2 separate regions of the Homo sapiens genome follow, and region 1 is linked to region 2. A link means that fine-mapping ties the variant in region 2 to the expression of a gene that starts in the linked region. Tissue or cell type: whole blood. Region 2 holds a variant in brackets; the other region holds the start of a gene. All regions are shown on one strand. Distances are between the middles of the regions.

Region 1 (2,684 bases), 38 kb after region 2:
AATTAAAAATAAAATCTATTGTTAGGTTTAAATGAGTCACTGCTTCATTAAGCTATCAATATTAGATAACACATATTGAATGAATGTTTCCCATAGGCCAAGCTCTGTCCCAAGCATTTCACATGTATTTGCATTTCGTGCTCACAAACTGCCTCTGACTGACTGATTTTGATTTTCTTGATTTTATGGATGAGGAGACCGAGAAGCAGAGATGATGAACTTCCCCAAGGTCACACCACTCATAAGTGGGAGAAACAAGCTAAAATTCAGGCCATCTTACTGCAGAATACTCAAAATCAAAATAAGCAAAATTTCATCTCCAGTTCTGGCACCTCACCAAAAACCAAAACACGATTTAAAAATATAAAATTTTAATAACACCACACATAAATTTCAAACTACTTTCCCTAAGTTTCTAGCTGAAGTTTTAAATGAGTGTGTTTTTAATTTATTAGAAAGTGGATTGAAGAGAAAACATTGGAAGATGAAGGAAGGCGTTTCAGTTAAACCCCAAATAACTCTGTGTTACACTGAGCTATGAAACGGCTCCTTCTAGCTCCATTTCTCCTCAGACCTAAGTGCTATTCCTGATTGTCCTTCATTGTCATTTCCAGGGAGAAATGACACCAGCACAGTGGCAGGCCTTCCAATCTGGAGCACGGTCCACACAACTTCCGAATTGGTGTTCAGTGTAAAGTGTATCGGAGTGCGGAAAATGCGCAGGGCATTGCCAACTATAGATGCTCGGAGTAATTCAGTGTATTCAGAGAACACGGTGAAACAAGGAAAACCGGCCTGACTGGGGGGTGAATTCAGCAGGGAGTAAATCTGATCGGCATCAGGTCTGCGGAAAGGAGCTGGTGAGCACGACACCACCCAGGCATTGCCTGGCTCTCTCCGCGGCGGGCTAAGTTAACCGCGGGTCCAGGTGCGGGCCATGGTCTTGGGGAGGGTGCTGGGTGCGCTCGAGCAGGCTAGCGTCGGGAGCCGCCGCTGCTAGTGAGAGGCCGGGGCCACACACGCTCCTCCCCGGTACCTCCTCCAGCATCACCAGGGGAGGAGAGGGTCGGGGCCACAAGGCCGCGCTAGGCGGACCCAGGACACAGCCCGCGCGCAGCCCACCCGCCCGCCGCCTGCCAGAGCTGCTCGGCCCGCAGCCAGGGGGACAGCGGCTGGTCGGAGGCTCGCAGTGCTGTCGGCGAGAAGCAGTCGGGTTTGGAGCGCTTGGGTCGCGTTGGTGCGCGGTGGAACGCGCCCAGGGACCCCAGTTCCCGCGAGCAGCTCCGCGCCGCGCCTGAGTGAGGAGGGGCCCCGGGGGCGAGGCGGGAGTGGGAGGAAGGGCACGGTCGCCGCGCTGGAGGTCGGGACCCCGGAGCGGCGACCGGCCGGGGTGGGCTCGCTGAGTCGCACCCGCTCTGCTGGCCGGTCCTGGGCTCACAGTCCCTGCAGCCCTCGGAAACAGCGCTAGGATCCTTGCGGGGAGAGGGAGAGGATGACGGTATTAGACACCAGTTCTTCCAAACCTTTTCCCGAAAGGAAGCAACCCTAAGAGCTCAGAGCTGGGGGGAGAATCAGGACAGGCAGGGAACACATGGAGTTTTCTTTTCTTTTTTTTCTCTCTCTCTCTCTTTCTTTCGTTCCTTCTTTCTTTCTTTTGAGGCGGAGTCTCATTTTGTCGCCAGGCTGGAGTGCAGAGGCGCGATCTCGACTCACTGCAACCTCTGTCTCCCGGGTTCAAGCAATTCTCCTGCCTCAACTTCCCGAGTAGCTGGGACTGCTGGCGTGCCGTATCACGCTCGGCTAATTTTTTTGAATTTTTAGTAGAGACGGGGTTTCGCTGTGTTCGCCACAATGGTCTCGATCTCCTGACCTCGTGATTCGCCCGCCTCCGCCTCCCAAAATGCTGGGATTACAGGCATGAGCCACCGCGCCCGCCCCGGAGTTTTCTTATCTGTAGATCTCCTACAGGGACAATCTCTCTCTCCGTCTCTCTCTCTCTCTCTCTCTCTCTCTCTCTCTCTCTCTCTCTCTCTCTCTCTCTCTCTCTCTCTCTCTCTCTCTCACACACACACACACCACTACACACCTCTCACTCTGCCTCCTCTCTCTCTCTCCCTCCGCTCTCTCTCTCACACACCCTTCTCCCTCTCTCCCTCTCTCTCACTCTCCCTTTGAGGAGTATTGCGTTTTTGGAGCCCAGTTATGCGTGGCTGCTGTAAGAACAAAACAAAGCACTCTTTGTCCTACCTGGAGCATCCCCCTGCCGGCCAGATAAGATCACAGCTGTGTCACCAAGTCAAGGGAGAGGCTCATTTTTAAAAAATTAAGCAAAATCAGAAAACAGAGAACACTGTCTTCCTCATCATCTCCTGGAGCTTGTAAGAGAAATTTCTGTCACCAAAAACGAAAAGTTCGGGCTTTTATTCATGCCTGTGGTTCTTGGGATTACTGCAGTGGTGATGAGGAAGGAGAGGTGCGTATGGCTCATAAATGGCAGCTTGCCACCTTTAAAAGGCACACGGATTCAGATTTGGGATGTGTTAACAAATCAGGCTTGCACAAATTACTTTTGATCCAAATGAGAATGCTGAGCTGGGAGACTGGTATATGGGTAGGAGCTGGAAAATGTATCCCCTGAGGTGTTGGCAATCCCAAGAGGCTCAGCACGAAACCTTGAGCTTACA
Region 2 (2,684 bases):
AAACTTGGCATAAATTCTCTTCGGTCTGGGCCTTCCTAAAGCAGCTCCTTGGCCTAGTGTGTGCTCTCTCCTCCTCTTCTTCTGCTTAACCCAGCCTCCCTTTTAGTTTTCTGTTCAGATACCACCACCTCCTCCAAGAGACCTGAATTCTTCTGGTCTGAATTCTTCAGACTACATTATGAGCTCCAGGTAAGGGCTCCTGAGATCTTTGGGCCTCCCCTTCACATTCCATCCCCCTTTACTGTTTTTGTGAGTTAACTTATTGCCTTCTCAGCTGCATGGGATCTAGCCTATCTGTCCACTTTAGGGTGAGCACCTGGCACCTACAACAGTGCTTGGCACATTAAGTGTGCCTAATGTATATTTGTTATATGACTGAATAGATGAGTCATTGAGACACCTACTCTTAAGAACTCATCTGTTCATTTGCATGAAATGTCCAGAAAAGGCAAATCTATAGAGACAAAACGATTAGTGACTGCCAGAGCATGTGAGTGGCAGCTGGGAGTGATTGCTAATGGGCAGGAGAGATCTCTTTAGGGTGTTGAAAATCTTCTAAAATTGGTTTGTGGTGGTGGTTGCACAACCATATGTCTACTAAACATCATTGAGTTATACACTTAAAATGAGAGCATTTGATGGCATGTAAATTATTCTTCAATAGAACTGTTTTGTAAAGGAACTCATCTAGCCTTTGCTGGCTCCTTGGCAACCAGTTCCACAGATTGCTCTGATGGCAGAAAAGCCATCCCAAAAGCTTACATAGCTTAACATTTTTATAATAGCAATAGGGGCCAGACCTCATGTTTCACTGTTTCACACACAACCTTGACTTCTCAGTGGAAAGTATTTTGCTACCTTAGATTCTTCAGGATCTGCAGTCATCAAGTTTCATGGAACCTGATAAGGAGGCTCAGAGTCACATGGCTGAGGGAATTCCAGTACTGAACATTAAAAAAAAAATCTTTGTAGCTAAATTTACTTGGAGACTAGCACAATGTGCATGGGTGTTAGATAAGGCCAGAGAAGTGTCTTGAGTGTGACCAGGCGAGAAATAGGAAGCCAACTTAGAGAGCAGAAGCTGTTCTCTCTAATTTCTGAACC[C/A]CTGCTGCAAAGTTGCTAAACAGTCACATGGTTCCTAGTGGGTGGAAGGTCTCTGATTTCTCTTCTGCAAATGTGGCAAGAATTTAGAGTTCCCCGGCCCAATAAGAGGAACATGTGTGGCCACAGGCTGGCCTTGGGACTCCAGTTATATCCTGGAAGGGAGCTTCTTCTTTGCCTTGGTTTTGTCAAATGACATGTGACAAGAAATGGTTTGCTAAGAGACTGCTGCTGTACTTATAATGTTCCCACAAGCCATGCCAGAGTGCCCAAAGAGAAAAATTCTAGTACCCCTCAAGTCCAAGATTCCTGGAGAGCTCACGGCTTCTGCCCCAAAGTCCTTTGGTCTGATGGAATCTAGGACTACCCAAATGTTGAGAACAGAGTGACAAAGCCAGCAGGGGAGAGAATTCCTGAGCTGTCTCTTAGTGAAATTTGCTCTTTTGCATAGGAATTATTGGTGATGCCTGATTGCCCTATAGTTGTTACATGTGATTTTATAAGATGGGGGGAACAATCCTCTGGAGGGAGTGTGGGACGGTGGACAGATGACTGGACTAGAACACAGAAAACCCAAATTCAAATACTAATTCTACAACAAATCCGCTATGTGAGCTTGGGGAAATCACTTTTCTTCTCTGAGCATCTGATTGCCCATCTGTAAAATAAGGGTTTTTGGTTAGATGAACTTTAAGGTCCTCTTGACTCCGATAATAAGAGTCATAACTATAATCATGAGTGCCAGGTACATCATGTGTAATCCTAAGAGGCAGGCATGCCTATCACCAATTACAAATGAGGAAACTGAAGATATGGCAGACTAACCAAACTCCTCAAGTTCAAACTGCTTAGAAAGAATTGCTTGAACTGACTACCCTAAAATAGATCCTGAACTCTGACTACACAGCAGAATGTGAGGGAATTGTTTCTAATTTCTTGGGCTTGTGGGCACCACAGACATTTCCAAAGGCCACTGGCTACTACAGAAAAGCCTCTAGATTTTCCCCCTATCATTACATTTAGAAAACTTTCAAATACACAGAAAAAATTTTTAAAAATTTTATAGTACCATCCTAATACCTACCTTCTACTAGCTCTTACTGCTTGCTTTCACACATAACTAGTCACCTGCCATCTCACTATCCCTCCGTCAATCTTATGTTTCGAGGAACCTTTAGTCTTGATGAGTTCTAAGAAAGGTGTCTCTCATTAAGCTTTCTCAATTCTTTCTCTCTGGCCACATATTGCTTAATCTTCACAAGTATCAATGAAGCCAGCATGAATGGGCCTTATAGAGGAAGAAACTGAGGCTTACAAAGGTCAGCAACTTTCTCAAGGCCACTGAGCTGGGAAGTGCTGGAACCTACCTGTCTCAGGCAAAAGCCCCTGCTCTTACCCCCATGTTCTGTTGCCCTCTGACACAGCACTTTTCAAAAACATAGGCATTATGCCTTCGTTAGTCAGTCATCTTTTACTTCCACTGAGGGGTTTTTTTTTCCCTAGAACATTAAAATCTTTGAGGAAAAATGAAACAAAATAAAAACGACTCAGGTTTTATTCACTCTGCTATGAGCAGAACTTCA

Evidence for each region. PIP is the estimated chance that this variant, and not a neighbour inherited with it, causes the effect.
Region 1: PLA2G7 starts here. The variant in region 2 is fine-mapped to the expression of PLA2G7 in whole blood (TOPMed, PIP above 0.99).

The regions. Positions count from the first base shown.
Region 1 is chr6:46,733,794-46,736,477 of GRCh38, reverse strand. It overlaps PLA2G7 (phospholipase A2 group VII), which reads left to right and starts at 1,103. Exons shown (of 12, transcript NM_005084.4): 1 at 1,103-1,298.
Region 2 is chr6:46,771,447-46,774,130 of GRCh38, reverse strand. No RefSeq gene overlaps it. Among named protein-coding and RNA genes, the nearest start is that of MEP1A, 21 kb to the left of the region's middle. The variant C/A (reference allele first, on the strand shown) is at 1,105.